Homo sapiens: one gene and its partners. The protein of the gene in region 4 purifies or fractionates together with the protein of the main gene of each other region. This does not show direct contact. Each region holds a gene or a part of one and is shown on either strand. Other genes may lie near its edges. The genes, in order: MAGED4B, SRPRB, HACD3, ARHGAP36, NOP58, ATG2B and LSM11.

The links.
Region 1: the proteins of ARHGAP36 (region 4) and MAGED4B purify together in Homo sapiens (affinity purification with mass spectrometry, with the first as the bait; 2 studies listed by BioGRID). This does not show direct contact.
Region 2: the proteins of ARHGAP36 (region 4) and SRPRB purify together in Homo sapiens (affinity purification with mass spectrometry; one large-scale study listed by BioGRID and IntAct). This does not show direct contact.
Region 3: the proteins of ARHGAP36 (region 4) and HACD3 purify together in Homo sapiens (affinity purification with mass spectrometry, with the first as the bait; one large-scale study listed by BioGRID). This does not show direct contact.
Region 5: the proteins of ARHGAP36 (region 4) and NOP58 purify together in Homo sapiens (affinity purification with mass spectrometry; one large-scale study listed by BioGRID and IntAct). This does not show direct contact.
Region 6: the proteins of ARHGAP36 (region 4) and ATG2B purify together in Homo sapiens (affinity purification with mass spectrometry; 2 studies listed by BioGRID and IntAct, with this or other methods). This does not show direct contact.
Region 7: the proteins of ARHGAP36 (region 4) and LSM11 purify together in Homo sapiens (affinity purification with mass spectrometry; one large-scale study listed by BioGRID and IntAct). This does not show direct contact.

Annotation. Positions count from the first base shown.
Region 1 is NC_000023.11:52,063,756-52,066,183, forward strand, and holds part of MAGED4B (melanoma-associated antigen D4), read right to left. Parts: intron 2,392-2,428; coding exon 2,328-2,391; intron 2,135-2,327; coding exon 2,055-2,134; intron 1,667-2,054; coding exon 1,575-1,666; intron 954-1,574; coding exon 874-953; intron 789-873; coding exon 746-788; intron 355-745; coding exon 292-354; intron 1-291. UniProt on the Homo sapiens protein: May enhance ubiquitin ligase activity of RING-type zinc finger-containing E3 ubiquitin-protein ligases. Proposed to act through recruitment and/or stabilization of the Ubl-conjugating enzyme (E2) at the E3:substrate complex.
Region 2 is NC_000003.12:133,812,315-133,815,814, reverse strand, and holds part of SRPRB (signal recognition particle receptor subunit beta), read right to left. Parts: intron 226-3,500; coding exon 89-225; intron 1-88. UniProt on the Homo sapiens protein: Component of the signal recognition particle (SRP) complex receptor (SR). Ensures, in conjunction with the SRP complex, the correct targeting of the nascent secretory proteins to the endoplasmic reticulum membrane system.
Region 3 is NC_000015.10:65,571,963-65,575,462, forward strand, and holds part of HACD3 (very-long-chain (3R)-3-hydroxyacyl-CoA dehydratase 3), read left to right. Parts: intron 1-272; coding exon 273-404; intron 405-3,500. UniProt on the Homo sapiens protein: Catalyzes the third of the four reactions of the long-chain fatty acids elongation cycle. This endoplasmic reticulum-bound enzymatic process, allows the addition of two carbons to the chain of long- and very long-chain fatty acids/VLCFAs per cycle.
Region 4 is NC_000023.11:131,078,846-131,082,345, reverse strand, and holds part of ARHGAP36 (rho GTPase-activating protein 36 isoform 1 precursor), read right to left. Parts: intron 823-3,500; 5' UTR 681-822; coding exon 428-680; intron 1-427. UniProt on the Homo sapiens protein: GTPase activator for the Rho-type GTPases by converting them to an inactive GDP-bound state.
Region 5 is NC_000002.12:202,286,263-202,289,762, forward strand, and holds part of NOP58 (nucleolar protein 58), read left to right. Parts: intron 1-1,397; coding exon 1,398-1,462; intron 1,463-3,500. UniProt on the Homo sapiens protein: Required for the biogenesis of box C/D snoRNAs such as U3, U8 and U14 snoRNAs. Part of the small subunit (SSU) processome, first precursor of the small eukaryotic ribosomal subunit.
Region 6 is NC_000014.9:96,311,342-96,314,841, forward strand, and holds part of ATG2B (autophagy-related protein 2 homolog B), read right to left. Parts: intron 2,095-3,500; coding exon 1,988-2,094; intron 1,817-1,987; coding exon 1,724-1,816; intron 819-1,723; coding exon 748-818; intron 278-747; coding exon 201-277; intron 1-200. UniProt on the Homo sapiens protein: Lipid transfer protein required for both autophagosome formation and regulation of lipid droplet morphology and dispersion.
Region 7 is NC_000005.10:157,742,378-157,746,511, reverse strand, and holds the start of LSM11 (U7 snRNA-associated Sm-like protein LSm11), read right to left. Parts: upstream 2,801-4,134; 5' UTR 2,762-2,800; coding exon 2,314-2,761; intron 1-2,313. UniProt on the Homo sapiens protein: Component of the U7 snRNP complex that is involved in the histone 3'-end pre-mRNA processing. Increases U7 snRNA levels but not histone 3'-end pre-mRNA processing activity, when overexpressed. Required for cell cycle progression from G1 to S phases.

The DNA of each region.
Region 1 (2,428 bases), about 79 Mb from region 4:
GTGTAAACCAGGGGGAACTCTTGTGTCAGTCTACAGGGCAGGTGCTCAAGGTGATGGCGGCCGTTTTCACACCCCACACCGTGTTCTCAGGTGACGTGAGCTCCCTTTTCCCAAGACCGCCCTGGCCTTCGGCTCCCCACACACTCGCATACCCCCCACTGCCACTCACTCCCAGGTCAGAGGCACCCATCCCTCCAGTTGAAGATTTGGGATAGGGAACTGCTTTCTCAGCCAGACCAGCACACAAAGGATGCTCGAGTGAGAGCCGCAGTTAGCTCAGGTGATACTTACTTCTGCTTCACAAAGTCATCTGTGATGAGCTTCCTCAGATCGCCGAGGAATGGGTGCCTCACCCTGAGGGCAAGGAAAGGAATCCATGAGCAGAGACGGTGGCAGGGGCCCTCCCTAGCATGACTATGACTTCCCAGCCCCCGGGGAGTCGCTGTGGAGGCCTGGGCATGCAGCAGAGGCCAGAGGACTGTTGGTCAGGGACGCCCCAGGTAGGGATTTGATGGAATCCCTGACTCTGACTGTCTCTCTTAGATGTCATCTGGGGCCACAGAGCAGAGAGAGGGCTGAGCAGCGTCCAGCACCGCTTCCCCATCCGCCCTGGTGAGATCCTTTGCTCTCTACCGAGCCCAGGGCACCCCACGCCCTTGCGCCAGACCACCAGGCTATTGCAATCCCAGGACCTCTTTGGCCAGAGGATAGCACCGAGGGGAGGAGCTGGAGAGGCCAATCATACCCAGGGCGCAGTCCCATCTTGCGTAGTGCCTCCCAGAGGACAGCTGCGAGGGGAGAGGAGGTACGAGAGTTTGGCACCCAGAAGATGAGACTATGGGCAGCCCCCCAGTTGCAGGTCCAGCCACTCACCCTCGCTGGCACGGTTGCCATTCATGAAGATGACGCCCAGAATCACCAAGAGGAGACTCAGCCTGGGAGTGTCCTTGGTTCTAAAGGTGTGGAAAGAGAAATCCTGTTTAGCAGCTATTTGCCTGAGAGACACCACCAGGCTCTCCCAACTAGCCTCTCTCAGGTTTCCCAGCTTGAGGGGAACTCTTCCCAGGACAGGCACAGTTCACTAGCTGCTGACAGACCATTCGCACCTCCGCCTGAGACTTAATCGCCTCCTCTATAAAACATGGGTACTAACACTTCCCTGACAGGGTTCTGCAGAGGACAGGGCGAGGCAGGGAGCCGAAGCTCTGCAAATGGCAAACGTGTGCCCAGAGATGGCTCCAGACCTTTCCTGCCCCTTCCACATCAGCACCTACACTGAAGAGGCAGCTCTCCCCTAGGCCAGCTCTGCCAGGCCCAGGCCAGGCAGGCAGGAGGAAGAGGCACTTTCCTCCGAAGCTTTGGGGATAAAGCCCGGCAGCAGCTTGGGGAGAACTGATGGCAGCAAGGCCTCACCCCAGGCTATCATTCCTTTCATCCAGCAGTCACCAGGCAGCCCTCGCTGTGTGTGGGAGCGGTGCGCCGCACTCAAGCCCCGTCTTCCTGCTTCACTGAAGGGGTGTGGGCAGGGAAGGGACACCACCGAGGAAGGCCACGACCCGCTTTCCCTTTCTTACTTTCCAAGGAGGCGAGCTGAGGAGTCCCGTGTGCAGACAAGAATATACAGGTGTTCTTCCTTGTCGATCTCCTTCAGGTGGATCCCAAACTTCTACGTGGGGGAGAAAACAGAGTGTGAGATCCAAACCCCATGCTGGGCATCCTGCCGGCAGACAGTGATTCCGGGTTAGAACTGCTCCTCAGCAAGGAATCCAAACTCGTGAGCGAGGGCAGAAGAAGACAGCACACGGAAGACCTTCGCTGTGGGAGCTGACGCTGGCAGAGGCGATGAGACCCACCTGGCCAGACGGCGAGACACTCAGAGAGCATGAGAGAGAGAAGCCGAGGGCAGGAAGCACGAGTCAAACTGCCAGTGCAGTGGAAGCTCAGAGTCGGAGAGGTGAGAGATGGCTCCAGAGACTGGGCCTTGAGGGGCTGCAGGGTCACCGCACCCCCATGCCCGCTCTTCCCCCACAGAGCTGCTCCCATCCTGCACCCACCTTTTCCAGGGTGTACGTTGCTCGTTCAATGATCTCAGGGAAATGTTCATCATATTCTCTGATGACATCCTTCAGCATGTCTGCAGGAGGGGGAAGAGTTGGAGAAAGCACCTGGGCTGAGCAGGGGTCATAGAGCTGTAGCCCCTTGGTCAGCTCTGCCGAGGGTGACGCAGCCAGGACCCCGTCCTGTGGCTATGGAGGGACCAGCCGTGGCACGCAAGCAAAGGGATGCCCACAGACTAGGGGATGGTGAAGGGGGCACAGGCTGCCTACCTGCGCGCTTGATGGGGATCTTCTTGTAGTCCTTAATCATCAGGTATTTCACCAACTTATTTGCCTGGAGAAGGAGGAACATGCGGGGAGGTCAAGGCATG
Region 2 (3,500 bases), on a different chromosome or scaffold from region 4:
TAATAACAACTGTAAATAATGGAAATAATTCTTAGTAGCAGCAATCCCCAAAAAACTCAATTATTATTGCAAGAAAACATGATGGCACCTTGCTTATTGCAGGCTATTAAGAATGATGGTGTATTCTTCAGACCCATACTGTCAATGAGGACTTGATACAGAAACTCAGCCACATCTTTCACCTCTCGCTGGAATGCTGCACTATCCACAACAAACACAATAGCCCTGGAGGGAGAAAACAAGAAAAACTGGCATGTGAACGTGTAACAGGACATCATTATCTTGAAAAACTATCCTGAACTTCTTCAAAGTCAATCTTGGTGATTAACACTCAGCAGACACACATGCAGGTCTGTGCATATGTTATCATATAACATAAATCCTCATTTAACAAGGAACTATTGAGTGCTACTGTGTATCAATGACTGAAGCTGAAAAAAGACAGTAAGAAATGATGCCTGTCCTCCAAGACAAATCATCATATAGAGAACCATATGATAAATGCCAAGACAAAACTATGCACATGTGTAACAGGAATAAAGAGAAAGATCATTTAAATGAGACCAGGTCAAAGGCAACTTTAAGGAGAATGTAACAGTTGAGTTGAATCTTAGCTAGACCAAAAATTGGGGCACAGGCTGTCTGGAAAGTACAGGTTGAGTATCCCCAATCCAAAAATCCAAAGTCTAAAATCCAAAACACTTCTGGTTCCAAGCATTTTGGATAAGGGATACTCAGCCTACAGTATGTTCAAGCCACAAATACGTGAAACACATTCCCTGGGGAAGTCAAGGTAAGCTGGTACACAGGGAGATGGGGAAATGAAGGAGAACCAAGTCAGACAGTGAGGCGTGACACAATGACCTGTGGAGTTCATGCTTTTCTGTCTTATGAAGAATATTGGTGCCTAAATGGAAGACAAAGCAATCTTAGAGGGCGCTTGAACTAGAAGCACAGTGACCAGGTAGGGCCTGAACTAAGGCAGCCATAGTGGGACTCCTCATGTGACAGAAACAAAGAGATATCAAAGCTAAAGTGCAGCAGCCCAGGGAAACTGCAGACAACAGGTCTTAGGGGGCCGGGTGCGGTGGCTCACGCCTGTAATCCCAGCACTTTGGGGGGCCGAGACAGGCAGATCACTTGAGGTCAGGAGTTCGAGACAAGTCTGGGCAACATGATGAAACCCAATCTCTACTAAAAATATAACAATTAGCCAGATATGGTGGCGGGAGCCTGTAATCCCAGCTACTTGAGAGTCTGAGGCAGAAGAGTTACTTGAACCCAGAAGGCGAAGGTTGCAGTGAACTGAGATCATGCCACTGCACTCCAGCCTGGGTGACAAAGCGAAACTCCATCTCAAAGAAAACAAAAAAACAAAAAAACCGGCCAGGCGCGGTGGCTCACGCCTGTAATCCCAGCACTTTGGGAAGCCGAGGCGGGCGGATCACGAGGTCAGGAGATCGAGACCATCCTGGCTAACACGGCGAAACCCTGTCTCTCCTAAAAATACAAAAAATTAGCTTGGTGTGATGGCGGGTGCCTGTTGTCCCAGCTACTCAGGGGACTGAGGCAGGAGAATGGCGTAAACCTGGGAGGCAGAGCTTGCAGCGAGCCAAGATCGCGCCACTGCACTCCAGCCTGGGCAACAGAGCGAGACTCCGTCTCAAAAAAAAAAAAAAAAATACAAGCCTTATGGACAAGGGTTTGAATGCCCAGGTGGAGATAAGAGACATGCAATGGCCAACATGCAGCTGGGGAGCTAGAACTGAATGCCCTGCACAAAGCCTACAACTTAAAATAGTCTCAGGGAGGTCGGGGCTTGCAAAAAAAGTTCCCTTAGAAACAGCGGGCCTCCACTGCCTCACACAGATATAGGGTATGAATTTATACTCTCTCCAGGTGTAAGACCCCCAAGGGGAAAGGCTTACATAAAAATTGGGCCAGACTTATTGAAGCCCTATGGCCCCAACAGAAGGAACTATGAACCGCTTATGGAGCAAGGCTTTCATATCCTACGGGATTAAAGAACCACCACAATATCAATGATGTGTCACTCTTGAAGAAAGGTTCTGGAGCAAAAATTACAAGGCACAGAATAAAATAATTATGAGGGAGAATAACTGGTACCCCAAAGAGAATAATCAGCACCCCAAAACTAAGATAATAAAGCTATCTATAAAGTAAATGTTTAAAATTATTTAAGAAAATACTACAAACTACAATAAAAAATAGAATAGTATAAAAAGAAACAGGCTGGTTTGAAAAGGTAAGTATTTTAGACAAATATAGTAAATGATATTAATAAATCAATGGAAAAGTTAAGCAGAGATCATGCTCAGCTGAAAATAATGTAATAAACTAGAAAACAAATCTGAGGGAATCTTACAATATGCGAAGTAGAAAGATCTGGAAGATACGATAGAGAGGAAACAAGAAAGGCAAAAATAATAAGGTTCAATAACATTCATAAGAATTCCAGAGTGTGAGAAATGATCATGGGGAAACAGCACTACCTGGAGAAACGATGGTGAGAATTTTCCAAAACTGAGGAGAATCTTTGGTTTGGAATAGCACAACTGAATTCCAAGAATGATAAAGCTAAATCCATCCTTGAACAGAAGAAAATCTATCCCTGGATAGAAGGTCAAATCAGGCAGACTTACTACAGTGAAATGACAATTAGACTGACTGGCAAAAACATTCTCATCTGCAACAGATGGATGAGGTCAGGAGTGATGCGGCTGCCACCCAGGACTCTGCACTCAGCTAAAAGAGACATTCCAAAATGCTGGCCAAATAGAGTTACAAATGAACAAAGACTGAAAACATTTGACTACTCATCACCCTCTCTGGAAACACTTCTAAAAGATATACTCAGTGAGGGAAAACTGAATCTAAAGGGAAGAAGTAAAATTCAAGAAGCAATGGGGAGCAAAAGACCATAAGCATCCTGGTAATTCTCATCACTGAATGTAAGAGGAAAAAAAAGTATGGATGGGGGTTAAAAAGGAGCATAAATAAAAGGAAGATGTGAGGAAGATGAAAGTTAAAGTGTTTAAGGTTCAGGAAAAGGAAACTGATATTATTGGATTCAGACAATCAAATAGGCAATGTTTAAAAGATGGGGGAGGGGAACCATGATAAGAACAGCAACAGCATATGTTCAAATCAGGAGAGGGAAAATAGCCACTAGGGAAACTTGGCGAAGCCAGAAAGTAGGATTAAAAAAAAGTCACATACCAATATAGTAAATGTCTTTTCAACTTGCATGTTATCATGATTATAATTTATTTGAACTAAGTTTTATCTTCATATTTTGCATGTTTTATTTACCCAAAATACATGAATCACAGAGTAGTTATACTGCAAATCATAAAATATTTAGAACTGGCAATAGAAAAAGAAAAAACATTTAATTGGAAATAAAAACCCAATTATGGCAAAATTTACCAGCTCTAGATTTGTCTCAATTGTCCAAGGAATTTTCTTATCTGTGACAA
Region 3 (3,500 bases), on a different chromosome or scaffold from region 4:
TAAGTCAGCTAGGGATTTTCCTCTCCATTTTATAGAATAGAAGAAGCCCACTACCATGACTTCCTCATCTGTCTCTCTGTTGACAGGTTGGAGGCTGATCTCTTAGAAAAGTAGGGGAAAAAAAGGAGAGGCATGAGCTTTCTGTACAAAGGGAGGAGAAAGCCTTTCCAGCACACCCAGAACTGAAACTTTAGAGTACTAGGACTGGAAGTTCCTGTCATTAAATGTGACTGTTTCATTTGCTTCTAACAAGTTCTTGTTTCTGTTTTCAGCTGTCTCAGTGATTCAGTCCATTCCAATATTCAATGAGACCGGACGATTCAGTTTCACATTGCCATATCCAGTGAAAATCAAAGTTAGATTTTCCTTTTTTCTTCAGATTTATCTTATAATGATATTTTTAGGTAAGTATTGATTCTTTAATACAGACTTTTTCTTGTCACTTCTTAGACAGTAGAATTAAATCATTCAGAAATGTAAAAGTCCATATGAGAATTCTTTTGGGACAGAATTAGAGAATGATTACTTTGCAAAAACAGACCCACTAGGGGAATATGCTATGGTAAGGAAATATTTCTTTTCTAAATCTCCAGCAGTTAAATTATGTTCTTTAAGTGCTCTTGGTGATTGGGAATATACCATAAGATATTTCTTGTTTAAAACAATGTAAGGGGACAGGCATGGTGGCTCACGCTTGTAATCCCAGCACTTTGGGAGGCTGAGGTGGGCACATCACAAGGTCAGGAGTTCGAGACCAGCCTGATCAACGTGGTGAAACCCTGTCTCTACTAAAAATACAAAAATTAGTTGGGTGTGGTGGCGGGTGCCTGTAATCTCAGCTACTCAGGAGGCTGAGGCAGGAGAATCGCTTGAACCCGGGAGGCAGAGGTTGCAGTGACCTGAGATTGCAGCATTGCACTCCACCCTGGGCGACAGAGCGGGACTTTGTCTCAAAAAAAAAAAAAAAATAAATAAATAAATAAAAATTAAAAAAAAAAAAGTAAGGAGCCTTTTAAAATAGACTAAGAAGCTCCCACTTTTACTAATTTCAGTAGCATATTCCTCATCCAGAGTTTATAGAGGTGATAAGACAACCAGCAGCAAGGAAGGAAGAAGGGAATAAAGGCCTCTGAGCAGCCAAGGGTTGTCATAAAGCCTTCCACCTCACAATAGGAAAGTCCCCTGCTCCTCATGGAAAACCTGCTGACCTATTAATTTATATAAAATCATAAATTCCTGCCTTTATAAACTAACAGAAGGGAAAAAGAAAGAAACCTAAATTATTACAAATATGACAAATTTAAAAGGCTTCCTAACTATAAGGATTTTTTTTTGTTGTTGTTGTTGTTAAATTCTTATTAGAGGCCAGGTATGGTGGTTCATGCCTGTAATCCCAGCACTTTGGGAGGCTGAGGTGGGTAGATCACTTGAGGACAGAAGTTTGAGACCAACCTGGCCAACATGGCAAAACCCTGTCTCTACTAAAAGTACAAAAATTGGCTGGGCTTGGTGGCGCATGCCTGTAATTCCAGCTACTTGGGAGGCTGAGGCAGGAGAATCGCTTGAACCCAGGAGGCAGAGGTTACAATGAACCGAGATTGTGCCACTGCACTCCAGCCTGTGTGACAGAGCAAGACTCTGTCTCAAAAAAAAAAAAAATTTATTAGTAATCAGTATTTGGTAATTTCTAAATGCAACTATACATGATTCTACCCATATTATCTATACTATACTCTATACATAGATGTGAAAATACATACATTCTTATGTGTAGGTTAAATACAATTTGAGAAAAATAATTTTTTCCTTTTAAGAGCAAACTAATACGTATCGATTTTAGTATGACAACTAAGAACATAAAAACAGAATGAAAGGAATTTTGTCATTAAATATATTTGAGAGGAGAAAACACTGATTATCATACATAGAACTTTACATGTTTAAGGATAAGACAAGCTCCTAACTATAAGGACTCTTTAAAGTTCTGATACATTTTAGTGGTAATTTATATATTTCTCCTTGCTTTATTTCACAAAAGACTTAAGGTGGCCCTAAATAAATATAACTGTCCAGTCTCCTAGCCACAGAAGGATGCAACAATAGTATATTAGTTCTCTATTGCTGTGTAACAAATGACCCCCAAAACTTAGCAGCTGAAAACAATAAATAGTTATTATCTCACATAGTTCCTGAAGGTCAGGAAGCAGCCTGGCTGGGTGGTACTGGCTCAGGGTCTCATGAGGTTTCAGTTAGGCTGTCAGCTGGGGCTGCAGTTTCTGTAGACTTGACTGGGGCTGGAGGATCTGCTCCAAGCTCACTCTTGTGGCTGTTGACAGGAAGCTTCAGTTTCTTGCCATAGCCCGTCTCCATATGGCTACTCATGGCATGGCTTCCCCCAAAGCAATTGGTTAGAGAGAGAGAGCCCGAAGCCACAGTGCCTAATCTCAGAAGTGACAAATCATCACACAGACCAACCCAGTATAACATGGGAGGGGACTACACAAAGGTATGAAATAACAGGAGATAGAGGTTGTTGGGATCATTGTCACGGCTTGCTACCCCAGACAGTGAGAGGAAGACCACGCAAGGTAAGCCCAGGAAGCCAGAAAGCCCAGTGGTCTTGGTCATTTAGTGTTGCGGGAGGAGAGACTTATACCATAGTATTAGGAGCCCCTTAGTGTGCCAGTGCCTGGCAGATGTACAGTTAAATAGTATACATTGTAGGCCCACGTCATTTGCAAAAGGTTAAAATTTCTTTCTTTTTTTCTGTTTCAGCAAAGGGTATAATCCATTTCAGAAATATTGCCAACCAAAAATATTAAAATGTTTTGCCCTTGAAGAGAGGAACCCTCAGTTCAGAAAATGTACTAATTAAAGACAGCTTTTTACCTTTATTACTGTATAAATTCAGTATAACTAGGCCCCATGAAATGGGCATAAGATAAAGAGGAATAAATATTGGAAAGACATTTAAAATATTTTAGTGAACAGGGTAGAGGGGTAGAAATATTTTAAAGTGCATTGACTTAGTATCTTTTTTTGTGTTGTTTATATTGTACACTCTAATTTGCAAGATTTTATGTTCATATCTACTTTGCTTATAGTGAATATGTAGTTGCTCTTTTCTTATTCTTTAGAATGAAATAAATCCTAATTTCACATTTATAATTTTGAAGCAGTGTAAACAGCCAGTTAACATTTGTATATAGGTCAAAGGACTTTTTAGTTTTTTTTTTTTTTTTTGAGACAGAGTCTTGCTCTGTCACCCAGGCTGGAGTGCAGTGGCACGATCTTGGCTCACTGCAACCTCCACCTCCTGGGTTGAAGCAATTCTCTTGCCTCAGCCTCCGGAGTAGCTGGGATTACAGGCACCTGCCACCATGCCTGGCTGATTTTTGTATTTTCAGTAGAGATGGGGCGTCACAATGTTGGCCAGGCTGGTCTCAAACTCCTGACCTCAGGTGATCCACCCATCTTGGCCTCCCGAAGTGCTGAGATTA
Region 4 (3,500 bases):
CGCACTGTCTTGCTATCTCCCTCTACTCTCTGTCTCTCGACCGCGCTGTCTCTATCTCTCCCAGTTCTCTCCAGAGTGTCCCTCTGCGCTTCCGTCTCGCTCTGCCCTATTCTCGCACCGCACCTGCTGCGGCTGTCTCTTCACCGGCCCTCTGTCCACTTGTCTGTCCCTGACATCTGCCCGTCTGTCTTACTGCCCCCTCAACTCCCAGCCTTCGACCAAACTCAACTAATTTTTACCTCTTCCGCAATTCAACAAACAGCCTTCAACTCCGGCTTCTTCAGTTCCCCAGACGCCAGGAGAACTGATCAAGTCCGAGATCAGGCGTGAGCCCCTCCCACCCTGCCAGACCCCTAATCCGCCCCGTCCTGCCCGGAGGGTCCACTCTCCCGAAGGCGAGGATGCCACAATCCGGGGTACAGCTTACCTCTGTCAGGTTTGAATTCGGAGAGGAAATGTCTGGCCACGAGTTCGTGGTAAGCAGTCTCTTGCAGCTTCAGACGCTCCAGCTCAGAGAGGCTGTGTATCGATACCATCTTCGTCCTGCGGTCGGGGTTGTGTCCTGGGGCTCCTCCCAAGACACTCACTAAAAAAATGAAGGCGGACAACAACAGCAAAGGGGGCATGATTCTGGGGCACAGTGCCCTTGCTGCCTTCAGAAAAGGAATGCAGCCACCCATTCTGGAATCGGATGATTATCAAGGCTGCATCATCCAATTGTCACTGGACCTGGTGGAGAGAACTATGGGGGTGGGGGTAGAGGGGGAGGGAAAACTGGGAGGCGGCTTCACCCTCAAGCAGAGCAGCCTCTGGTTGTTTTTGCTAAAAAAGAAAAAAAAAATCCAACTTCAAAAATTCAGCCCTTAACAGATAGTCCAGGAAAAAGAAAACCTAATTAGAAAAAAAAAGTACAAAGAGAGAAAATAAGAAGAAAAAATAAAAGAGAAAAACATTTTTTAACAAAAGCACTTTGAAACAAAAATAAGATAGTATTTTCCATTAATTAATTAGTTAATTAATTAGAGCGTTTTTAGAGGTTTTTTTTTTTCTTTCCATGACGATACTCGATGCTGTCCAGGTTGGATAAAAAGGGGACTTTCATCTAGGTTAGGAGAGCTGCAAATTCAGACAAGTCCAGAAAACAAAATGGACACATGGGTCTAGAGCCAAAAATCGTCCCCAGGCCCTTTGACCTAGTAACTCCCCTTCTAGGAATCTATCCTAATAAAATCTTCCTACAGACAGGGAAAAGCATATCCACATAAACCATAATAGTAACAAAAAAAGGGAAAAAAAGCTAGCCCAGCAATGATATTAGTTATATAAATTTTGTAATGGCCACAGTATGGAAAAATTATGCAATCATTAAAGTTATATTTACAAAGAGTTTTTTAACAACAAATACAAAACACAGAATTGTATTAATTTTGATTGCAACTATGTGAAGAAAAACATGCATAAAAATAAAAGACTGAAGGAAATGCACCCAAATGCTAACAGCATTTGCATTAACTGGTGAGATTTTGTTTGCCTGTTGCTTTTCTCTATTTACCAAACATTGTACAACTTCATTATATTACTTTTTCATAAAAAAATCATTTGTACCAAAACCAACAAACATCATTTCCAGACCATTTCTAGTGAGACTCCTTAAACAGAATTGGTATCAAAGTGGAGTTTGTCTTAGTGTAATGGTAAAACCTATTTTATATGTGCCTTCTCCATGATGCCCACTATCTTATACTACTTCCAGACTACAAAGCATCCCCAATGGGGTATGCCCCTACACCTCACACAGCATCCTTTCCCGCACATTCTCTATTACTCATTTGTTCACTCATTCATTCATTCATTAAAACAAAAACCTGTATTAATTGCCCACTTTGTGCCAGGCGCTAAAGATTGAAAGGATGAGCAAGGTAATACTATTTCTTTTTTTTTTTTTTTAAAGATTTAACAGTGCAGTGAAGGAGATACACAAGTTAGCAACAATTTACAAAACCTTGTGATGTTAGACCTCCAAGATATAAACAAAGTATTGTGAGAGCAGAAAGGAGAAAACAGCTAAATCTGCCTGGAGACAGAGGAGGGGAGCATCCAGAGAGAACAGCTTGTGCAAAGGAAAAGAGATGGGAGAGAGGTTGTCATATTCTTGAAGCTGTATAAAGGGATTGGAAGGAGAAAAATCTGGATGGGCAGGGATGAGATCATGGATGGCCCTATAAGCCAGCTTAAAGAGTCGGACTTTTTCCTGAAGGCAATAGGGCTTTAGGCAGGGAGTGAAAGATTCAGGGTTGCACCTTGGAAAAATCACAGAAAGCCATGAAAAAGCCTGTTTTGGGTAGAGAGCTGGAAGTAGGTAGATGAGCCAAGAGGCAAGGGATATTGACACAAGTCAGTGTCACTAGGGCTGGAGTAGGGGACGAATCTCATGGATGGAACTGACAGGGCTTAGGGAACATCTTTAATTGCAATGGAAAGAAAACAATTTAGGATAGCTCCCAAGTTCATGGTTTGGGTAAATATGGCTGGTTCCTGATAGAGAAGATAATTCAGGAGATGGGGAACTAAACCTTTTGCCAAGAAAGGAAGTAGTTACATACAACTTTACTGAATGTCTCTTTCCCATGGAATCTACAATAACATTCTATATATGATTTGGGGGGTGGGGAGCTTAAATTTCAAAGATCAGGCAATGCAGCTTTGGCAGAGAAAAGTTAAGTAACGGTTTATCATGCAATAATCTAAATAGATGAGCTACCTTCTGTCCAAAAAAAAAAAAACAAAAAACAAAAAACAAAAAACAAACAAACAAATAAACCATACTTGAATTTTGTCTCCAAAACTCTTTTGCCTACTTCCCTTAGTAGCCAGGATCACAGATGTCAGAAATAGGTGCAGTAAGAGAAAAGATGAGGAGTTTTCCTGTGGCTTTTGAACTAAACCAAGAGGAAAACACCTAGCATAGATATTAAACCTTCAACTGCAAAGCTCCATCCCCTGGACCCAAAGTGAACACCTAACCCCAACCACCAAACTGCAACTTGCAAAGTGACCATTTTAACCAAAGGCACATGCATTTAACCACAGTTCCAGACTAAGCCTCTAGCAATTCCCCATTCAAAATAGCAGGTCCAGAGCCTATTAGTCTAGGGTCTCATCCTGAGACACACAGCCTAGCTCTGGCTTAATTTCTCTAACATTACTCCCCTCTCCCCTTTCCCCAATCCAGATATCTTTTGTACCTGTTTTGGAGTTTCAGCTATTTCTTCTTATCGAAGCTTACCAGATCTGATCATCCAAAGAGCAGAGCTGGTTTTTTCACCCAAAAATAAGATGAAAATCAGTCCCTTCTCTCCCCCAAATATAAGGTAAGAACAAACAGTAAAATCCCCAATCAACAACAGCCCCAAAAGGAGAGAGAGAGAAAAGCCTTTGAGAGATGAGTCAGCCTAGATGCTTACAATTCCGAAGGAAATCAAAGGCCTTAGAATAAACCG
Region 5 (3,500 bases), on a different chromosome or scaffold from region 4:
GCGAGGCTGAGGCAGGTGAATCATGAGGTCAGGAGATCGAGACCATCCTGGTTAACACAGTGAAACCCCGTCTCTACTAAAAATACAAAAAAATTAGCCAGGCATGGTGGCGGGCGCCTGTAGTCCCAGCTACTCGGGAGGCTGAGGCAGGAGAATGGCGTGAACCCGGGAGGTGGAGCTTGCAGTGAGTGGAGATTGCTCCACTGCACTCCAGCCTGGGTGACAGAGTAAGACTCCGTCTCAAAACAAAACAAAAAAGAAACACTACAATTTAAAAAGGTCTATTTTAAAATTAAAAGGTGGGCATAGATTGAAAGGGTTGAAGCTGCTAAGCTAGAGTTAAGAGCAAAAATGCACAAAGGTTAGGGAGAGCTTTGTAATAAGCATTTCTAAGAGAGAACAAATAGTGAAACTGAGTCAAAAATCCAAACCTGGGTAAATCTGCATTGTGTATAGCAGTGGTTCCCTATCAAGGGCAATCAGATGTCCCCCCAGTAGGCATTTGTCTATGTCCATAGACATTTTTGGTTGTCACAATTGGAGGTGGGTTGGGGTCTGCCATGAGTATCTGGTGGATAAAAGTTAGGGATACTGCTAAAGGTCCTATAATGCACAGGGCAGCCTGTACAACAAGGAATTAGGCCCAAAATATTAATTGTGCTGAGATGAAAAAACATTTTTATACAGACAATATTGTTACTCCACAGCTTTCTGTTTTCAGATGTTAAGAGTCCTGCAAAGTTCCTAACTGGTAGTATAAAGCTTAATATGTGCTATTAAAAATTGCATGAACCAATATGGCTTTTTTTTTTTTTTTTTTTTTGAGGCGGAGTCTTGCTTTGTTGCCCAGGCTGGAGTACAGTGGCACGTGATCTCGGCTCACTGCAACCTCTGCCTCCCCGGTTCAAGCGATTCTCCTGCCTCAGCCTCCAGAGTAGCTGAGATTCAGGCGTGCCCCACCATGCCTGGCTAATTTTTATATTTTTAGTAGAGACAGGGTTTCGCCATGTTGGCCAGGTTGGTCTCGAACTCCTAACAGGTGATCTGCCCACCTCGGCCTCCCAAAGTGCTAGGATTACAAGCGTGAGCCACCACGCCCAGTCCAATATGACTTTTGTATTACACAGCTTATCCTATTTGTCATTCATACATAAACTCATTCATGTTACAGAAATAAAGGTCGTAGCAGCACATATAGTTTTTTTTTTTAATGTGTATTTTCTGTTCTCGTATGGTGCATTTCTACTTAGCTGATTTTTCTTCTTAGAAAAACCAATTACAGCTCTGACTACAGGCTGATTTGAGTAAAAACAAAAACAAAAAAAAACTTTAAGGTGTTAATTTAAATGCTTTTCCTAGATGCTATCTTGCTAATTTATTTTCCCCTTTCTTCCCAGCCTGTCTCGATATAGATTGAAGTTTAGCGCTGATAAAGTAGACACAATGATTGTTCAGGCAATTTGTAAGTATAGTACATGCAAAGTCCGATTTGTTGCTCTGTCCTTCATGCGTTTTCATACTGTTGAAACTATCTTTTATGATTCTGTCTGTTGAGAAAGAGAAAGGAGGCCAGGTGTGGTGGCTCAAGCCTTTAATCCCAGCACTTGGGAGGCTGAGGCAGGCGGATCACCTGAGGTCAGGAGTTCAAGACCAGCTTGGCCAACATGACAAAACTCTGTCTTTACTAAAAATACAAAAAAAATTAAATGTGCATGGTGGCGTGTACCTATAATCCCAGCTACTCAGGAGGCTGAGGCAGGATAATTGCTTGAACCCAGGAGGCGGAGGTTGACTATTTGGAGATTATATGAATCACAGAATTAACATTACGTTAATTAATTCATTTGTATTTTTCCATGAAAATGTTAAAAACATAAGTGCAATCTTTGTAGTTGTGTATTCTGCTGTGTCATTAAATGGTTTTTAGAAAGCTCAAAAGCTGCCAGGCACAGTGGCTCATGCCTGTAATCCCAGCACTTTGAGAGGCTGAGGCGGGAGGATCACCTGAGGTCGGGAATTTGAGACCAGCCTGACCAACATGGAGAAATCCCGTCTCTACTAAAAATACAAAATTAACCAGGCATGGTGGTGCATGCCTGTAATCTCAGCTACTCGGGAGGCTGAGGCAGGAGAATCACTTGAACCCTGGAGGCAGAGGTTGTAGTGAGTTGATCGTGCCATTGCACTCCAGCCTGGGCAACAAGAGCAAATCTCCATCTCACTAAAAAAAAAAAAAAAAAATCAAAATCTTAATCGTTTTTCTATTTTAGAAATGCATTCGGCCGTGGCTCACGCCTGTAATCCCAACACTTTGGGAGGCAGAGGCTGGTGGATCACCTGAGGTCAGGAGTTCGAGATCAGGCCAACATGGTGAAACCCGATCTTTAGTAAAAAATAAAAAAATTATCTGAGCATGATGGTAGGCGCCTGTAATCTCAGCTATTCAGGAGGCTGAGGCAGGAGAATCACTTGAACCTGAGAGGCGGAGGTTGCAGTGGGCCGAGATCGCACCATTTCACTCTAGCTTGGACAACATGAGCAACACTCCGTCTCAAAAAAAAAAACAAAGTATTCGGCTGGGCGCAGTGGCTCACACCTGTAATCCTAGCACATTGGGAGGCCAAGGCGGGTGAATTGCCTGAGCTCGGGAGTTTGAGAGCAGCCTGGCTAACATGGCGAAACCCTGTCTTTACTAAAAATACAAAAAAGTAGCCAGTCGAGGTGGCGTGTGCCTATAGTCCCAGCCACTTAGGAGGCTGAGGAAGGAGAATCACTTGAACCCAGGAAGCAGAGGTTGCAGTGAGCTGAGATCGCACCACTGCACTCCATCCTGGGTGATGGAGTTAGACTCTGTCTCCAAAAAAAGAAAAAAAAAAGCGCTCAACCAGCGATTCCTTTCCTAGATTTATACCCAAAAGAATTAAAAACAGAACTGAGTTGCTTGTACACCTATGTTCATAACAGTGTTATTTACAAAACCAAACAGTGGAAACAACCCAGATACCTTTTAACAGATGAATGGATAAACTGCATTGTGGATGCAGCTTGAATGTCCCTAATCTGAAATTCAAAATGCTCTGAAATCTAAAACTTTTTGTGGTACCACACAAATCCACAAGTGGAAAACTCCACACCTGACCACACGTCAAAACTTTGTTTTATGCACAAAATTATTTAAAATATTGTGTAAAATTACCTTCAAGGTTTTGTATATAAGGTATATGTGAAATGTAGATGCATTTCCTATTTAGACTTCGAGTTCCATCCTCAGCCTCATACGTGTTTGCAAATACTCTGAAATACTTCTGGTCCCAAGCATTTTGGGTAACGTACACCCAGCCACTTCACACAGTGGAATGTTAGTCAGCCTTAAAAAGAAATGAAATTCTGATACATATTTCAACATGATAAACCTTGAAAATATGCTAAGTGAAATAGTCACAAAATACTGCATGATTCTGCTTATATGAAGTACCTAAAATAGGTGAACTCAGAGACAG
Region 6 (3,500 bases), on a different chromosome or scaffold from region 4:
TCTTTTTTTGCATAGATTTACATTAAATAAGATTCATGATAATCTGTCTCGCTACATAAAAAAAGTATTTAAATAAATCCATTTTTAATATACTTACTCTATTTCTGACCAAAATTAGGTACACGGAAAAATGTTAAACTCAATTTTTTTAATCTCTTAAAAAATAGAACTTAAAATTTTCATTTATTTTAATAACTCACTTGCTCTCCATCAGAATCAGACTTCACTGCAGTTATGGTTAACTCCAAAAGCCCCATATCCATCACACGAACATAATCTAAAATTTTTAAAATTAAGAAAATCTCTTCAGTACAGCTTTCAAAAATGTGTATCCAACCAACACCCAATACAACTAGCATTCCTTTAAAATTCATTGCAGAGAGCACTACAAATAATTATAATGCAATGAAAATAGTTTCATCCCATAGAAGTCCTAAAATTCACTTTATTTTTTGTTAGAAACAAAAATTATCTTAAATAAAAATTTGTAGTATATATAGTAATTTGATGTACTTAACTAGCATTATAAGAACATTACAATTTCAAACTGAAAAACCAGTATCTGAAAAATGAAGCTGTGAATATATACCACATGATCACTATATACTTAAAGACCCTTTAATCTTTAAGGATCTTTAATAAGATTCTTAGTTCACTAGCATTATCCCAGAGTTAAAATGCTTTAAAATTATTTACGCACAAAAATAAAGCAGAATTTATCTACTCCATTTGTTTTTTAACTCTTACCTCTACTCAGATTTATAGTGACAGTATTGCATTTGTCAGATAGATGTAAAGCAGCTTCATCCAAGATTATTCTGAGGCAAGAAAGATAAAACCAACATCTGAAAAACTAAGCTTTGAGTATCATACCCCATAATCACTATATGCTTAATTGCATCATTCTTTCTGGTATGAACATTGTTGAAATCATAAGCAGTTTCTAACTTATAACTGTCATCTAACATTTTTTAAAAACTGTTTATGAATGCTAGGAATATTTAAATGGTGTAAAGAATTAGATTAAATCATCTACTCAAATTAATTCTAAATTTTTGGCAGTTTTTAAAGAGATGCCCAAATTCACAAGGTTTAAACTATAGTATAAAGATAGAGTGGGCCAGATGTAGTGGCTCACACCTGTAATCCCAGCCGTTTGGGAGGACAAGGCAGGAGGACCACCTGAGGCCAGGAGTTCTCAACTAGCCTGGGCAACACAGCAAGACCCCTTCTCTACAAAAACAAAACTTTTTTTTTAATCAGCCAGGGATAGAGGCACACGTCTATAGTCCTAGCTACTCAGTAGGGTGAGGGCAAAAGATCACTTGGGCTCAGGAGTTGAAAGCTGTAATAAGCTGTGATCATGCCACTGCATTCCAGCCTGGGCCACACAGAGCAAGACCCTGTCTCTAAAAAATAAAAAAATTAAATAAAAAGTATAAAGTGTATCAGGTAGCATGGGAAGTTTACCATATGTTTTAAAATGCAAACTTTTTAAAGAATCTCCAGAATTAATTTCTTCCCTAAAAATGAAATGCAATAATAAATGGGTAGATGAAACATGTCACCTGAGAAAAATTGGGTAATTTGGGTAAAAGGTTATAACTATTAGTAAAAGAACGTTTAACAAAAAATTGAGACTTTAATAAAATGGTTTAGGTAAATATCAATTGGTATGTTTCGAACAGCTTTGTTTAGTATACAATGAAGTTTACACAGGTACCTGAGAGTAGAGGAAGATTTATCCAATGCAACGCTACTGGAAACACTGAATGTTTCCACGGTAAGAAGAGATCGGATTGGCAAATAAAGGGGTCTAATGCCAAAGAGAAACAAAAGAACATCAGTTTGATACGGCTCCAGAAACTCTATTAAAAACAACAACAACAACAACAATTTGAACCTTAACTCTACTGAATTATGTATTTTTTTCAAAATTTAGTAGCATTTTAAATAAAACTTTATTTTGTTCCATTTGTGAACTTACCTATAATCAAGTGCACAGCTCCAAAGATGAACATGAAAAGTTGTAAATGAAGTTGGAGGATTATATCCCAAAACAGGTTCATCAGCAATATTCAAGAAGTATAAAATCTATAATCACAAAAAATTAAAACGCCCTGCTTTAGAAGAAAAAAAAGGTTTCATATAATATCCTTAATACCAATGTAAACCAGAATATCTCACAGAAAAAATCATTTAATTGGAAAATCATAACGGTAAAAGGAAAAAAATCATCATTTTGAAGGAATTAGTTTCAAAAAGTACTTGCATCAGAAAAGAAGGTAATGGATACTGATGGATGTGTTCGTTTGACTACAATAGGCATTTTACTATGCATATCAAGACATGTTATTCACCTTATATATAATAAAAATAAATTTTTTAAAAGTATTTGCAAAATTAGAATTTGAAATGCAGAAGCCTATCCAACAACTCCAATGCTACAGAAATCTTAGAAAATCACACCTTATGAAATTAATAACAATGTATGCATAATATAATTTCATATTTTTTGGCTTGGAACAATTCTCAGAAAAAATAAATTTTGCTAAAGACTGCTTAAAACTATCAATCTGGCTTCTTATATAACTCATTGTGTGCAGGGGCGATTGGTTTTTCATATAAGTCATTGTTGAAGGAAGCTCTTTTTCCTTAATGTATACCTAGCTCAGTCTAAAAACCAGTCCCTCTCACCAACATCTATTCTTTCATATTTCTAATCCAAACAAATAAGGAGGTTCTGCTAAATGTCTCCCTTCCAGCTGGTTATTCACCCTAACCACTTCTCTACTCCTACCAGATAGAAAGTCAGACAGATATTCTCATGTTTCCTAAATGCTTTCATGAGAAAAGAATTTTGAAAACACTCAAGTTTTTAAATAATGTATTATTTTCCCAGCACAATTAAGAAGTTCTCCTTTATAAGAAACATGAGAAGCAATCATAGTGCACTAGTTTTCATTCTCACATAAGGAAAAGCTAACTTCTTACTCAAAGTCTCCTCTGAAAAATAACCAATTGTATTTTATTACCATAAAAAGTTGTTGAACTGGAAATTAATGAGAGAAATCCTGATAAAATGCTTTAAAGCAACATCATATTATTGGCCTAGGGAATTATATGGAAATATTGCACTTAAAGAACTTCTGATTATAAAAGCAATTCAACACACCATTCACTGCTCCTCTACGCCAGACATTCTACAAGTCCTGGGATACAGAGTCCCTTCCCTTCCTTTAATGACATATAAGATAACTCTGTCATTGAGAGGTTTTGAGGACCACACTTTAAGGTAAAAAACCAATTACATTCTGAGGTGATAATACTGTTTTGTTTTGTTTTGTTTTGTTTTGTTTTGTTTTGTTTTGTTTTTTGAGACAGAGCTTCGCTCTTGTCGCCAGACTGGAGTGCAGTGGCACGATCTCAGCTCACTGCAACCTCCGCCTCCCGGGTTCAAGCGATTCTCCTGCCTCAGCCTCTCCAGTAGCTGGGATTAC
Region 7 (4,134 bases), on a different chromosome or scaffold from region 4:
CTTAATTTTGCACTCCTTGTTTTTTCATAAACATTCCACACTGTCCTCTCTGTGAATTTGGATGGGTAACTTGGATCTGAATTGATGAAATACATCATTTTAAAGTCAGCGACAAAATGTAGCTCCTCATGTATTCTTCATTATGTTTCACTGATGATATGACCTAACAAAGCTTCTTCTTGCTGTTACAGCCTGATGGAACTTACATTTTATGTGAATATTTTGCAAAGGATTATGCATTCTCAAATGCATAGGCATTTTTTTCCAGAAAGCATTTGTATATGTCCACAAATAGTATTATCTTACTGGTATCTATATTTTGATTTTCCTGAGCAACTGTATCCAATCAGAGTTTAGAGTAGGCATATATTTTTTTAAATTAAAACTGTGGCATACATATAAAACATACCTAGTTCTTTTTTTTCCCCCCTTCCAACTTTTGTTTTTGGATCAGGAGGTACACGAAAGGTTTGTTGCAGGTGTAAATCGTGTGTCACTGGGGTTTGGTGCACAAATTATTTTGTCACCCAGGTAGTGATCACAGTACCCAATAGGTAGTTTTGTGATTCTCACCCTCCTCCCACCCTTCACCCTCAAGTAGGAACTCTTTCTTGAATGAATCCAATCCTCACCCATGTTTCTGTTGTTTTCTTGCTTTCTGAAGGTCATCAACTCTGTGCGACGTCAATGCCTTTCTCTCATGTACACTCAACTGTCTGCAGTGCCATGGTGAAAATTTTCAGTATGTAGGGCATATTCTCTGAGATCTTGATTCCAGGGATATATACTTAATCATAAGAAGTTGACAAAGCTGGTCTTCACACACTGTCATACCATTACAGTAAAGTGCTCTATAGGGAAAGCTAAAACCACCCACCACATAGCAATACACAGGAATATTCCTTTCCCTTGACAATCTTGGTAGCAAAGCAATAACTGGTAAAATAGAAATAAATGTTGCAATGAGACTTGGAGTGCATTTCAACTACCTAATGGTGGCAAATTGCATAGGCAAATTAAGGTCCCCCAAACTGCTCTCATTTTGGGAACAAGCATACTGTCTTTGTGTTACAGCCAGGCAAGCAGGCCGGGGTAAATCCTAGCTTGGGCAGGGATGCTGTGGCATGGTAAGACATCCAACGAAGGCACACGGAACAGCACAGAGCGTTTCAGGATGTTCTCTCTTAATAAACAAATTTCTAGGAATGAAGCAAAACAGTCCCTTGCTTGGCACACCTCTCCATCCAAAAGACAGTGACTTAATAAGGTAACAATTTAATTATCAGGATACAGATGCTTTGAATGGCTAAGTAGGTCATTGTGTTCACAGGGCAGATGTCAGAACTGCTTGCCAGATGACAAAAGAGATAACCTTAGGCTGTTTTTATTCCATTTATACAAGACCTAACTCACACATTAGAGCCTCTGCTGTTTACAGCTTTACTCTAAGGATCTATGAGGAGGCTCCAAGAAATTCCCTTGTGCCATTTACACCTTTAGAACTTAAAATAACCTGCACATATGGTAATATGAGCCTGACAGACACAGTCCTGCACCCAGCCAGGCAGAGTGGCTGTAAAACAGCGTCTGTGTTTTAGTGGCATTCTGTGCCTGCTGCATTTCAGCACTTGTGACTTAGTAATGTGAACATATGTGTATCAAGACTCTGCAGCCCTTCTGCTTATCGCACTCGAGAAGGAGCTGTCAATGTACAGGGGTTATGGGATTATGCGCCTGTGCTATCTGAACAAATCTCCCCACACTCCATCCGATCATCCTCAAATCCCACTGACCAAATACTCTCCTTCCCCTAATATTGGCTGTGCGCTCCCCCACGTCTCCCGTTTTCCGCCCCACCTTACCTCTCACTGTGGTCTCTAAGACCTCTCATCACCTCTGTAGACGTCCCTATGATGTCCCCCAAACTCTGTAGCCCCGCCACCTCTCCAGGTCCTCCATCAATCCTGTAGACCCTCTCGGCAGGCTCATCACCTCTGTGACCCTTCCATGGGCCCCGATTACCGCTGAAGACCTTTCCCACGGCTTCTTATGACCACTACAGCCTTACCACTCTCCCTCTGTTGCTCCTACAGCCCCTTTTCTTACTCAGGGTGACCCTCCCCACGCCCTCATTACCCACATTACTCAAGCAGATCCACCCCATAGTCACTGATGATCCCCGCAAATTTTCACCAAGGCGCTCCCGCAATACGTGCAGACCCGCGCCCGGCCACCGCCGCCCCGCAGACGCCCCCTCGGCAGCCAGCTTCCGGACGGCGGCTGCCCCGCTTCCCGCCCGGCCCGCGGACTCACAGGGCATTCGCGTGAGCACGTTGCGTGGCGCCTTCCTGCTCCGACCCGGACCCCTCCGGCCCGCTCCTGCGGCCCCGTCCCCTTCCTCTTTGGCCACCATGAGACGGCGGAGGCGCTGGATGCGCTCGGGGTCCGGGGCGGGCGCGTCCGGGCGGCGACGAGTCCTGCCCGAGGGCCCGGGTGCGGCGGGAACCCCAGAGCCCGCGGCCGCGCCCCGAGCCCGCCCGCGCCCGCGCCCGCCGCCCCGGACTCCGGTCCTGAGGAAGCTCTCGTACTCCGCCACGTTGTTGAAGCAGGGGGCATTGGGGTAGGGAATGGGAGGCAGGCGGGGCGCGTACAGGGCCAGCAGCGGGTCGAAGCTGTCAGAGCTGACATCCAGCCGCGGGCTGGGCGGGCGCGCGGGGCTCCCGGCGCCAGCCGACCTCGCCCCCCGCTCCCGCTCCTCCATGTTTGAAAGGCCCGCAAGCCGAGGCCGATGGGAAGAAGGAACGAAGCCGCCAGAGGGCGGCACTGCGCAGCCGCGGCGCGGGGTTGCACTGCGCCGAAGCGGCCGCGGGAGGGCAGCACCTGTCCTCGTTCCACCCGGGCCGGGGGGCGTGGTACGCGGCTCCGACCAGCCCGCGCCTCGCACCGCCTCCTCCCATAGCTGACAGGTTAACGCTGTCGACTGCTGCTTGACCTGCTCCAGCGCAGTTTCCCCGTCTGTATCATTATCACTTAGGGTGTTTGTTAATACTCTGGGTTCCCCGGGAATGAGCTCGGGATCGCATCCTAGCTTGAGCTGGCAGGAAGCGTCTGGAGGAAGGCAATGAATGTCTCAGTTTGCTTCCATGCTGAGTACTACTGATAGGGTGGGAAGAATAGCCTATCTGGGCTCAAAGTATTTAGCGTGTTTCTCGTCTGAAATATGATATAAATAGCACCTACCTTATAGAACTGACCTCAGGATGGAGAGATACTGCCTACAGAGCTCATAATAGATGCATGTCAGCCAATACTGGGTGTCTGTCCTCCATTTCCTATACCCTGTGCATAAACAAATTTGTGCTTAGTATCAAAGAAAATTCATTATATCACTGTCTTTCTAAGCATTGCTAACCAATTGGAAGAAACGAAGATCCAGCTCTTGGAGGAAACTATGGAAAATTCCCAAGACCTGATCATACCACTTGCTACTTTATAGTCTCAGTTCGGCAAAATATTTTTTGGTTGATTTTAAAATGACAGTCTACTCTTCGCGGAAGGCCCAGATATAACCTTCTCATCCAGCAGAGCCAAAATGTTTCCACTCACCTACAGGCCACACATCACTTGCCCGTCACCACATTCTCAAACTGCCATCAACTAGTATTCTCTGTACTAGTTGCTTTGTGTACATTTCAGTTTCCTTAAGACTTAGGAAGTCCAAGAGAATACTGGAGAGTACCTTAGAGAGCAAGATGAAAATTAATATACAACTCTGAAATATACCTTGGGATGAATGCATACTACAGCGAAGACAAAACCATCAAGCAGGCCGGGCGCGGTGGCTCACGCCTGTAATCCCAGCACTTTGGGAGGCCGAGGCGGGTGGATCACGAGGTCAGGAGTTCAAGACCAGCCTGGCCAAGATGGTGAAACCCCGTCTCTACTAAAAATACAAAAAATTAGCCGGGCGTGGTGGCACGCGCCTGTAATCCCAGCTACGCTGGAGGCTGAGGCAGAGAATTGCTTAAACCTGGAGGGGCGGAGGTTGCAGTGAGCTGAGATCGCGCCACTGCACTCCAGCTGGGGTGACAGAGGGAGACTCCATCTCAAAAAAAAAAAAAAAACAAAAACCAT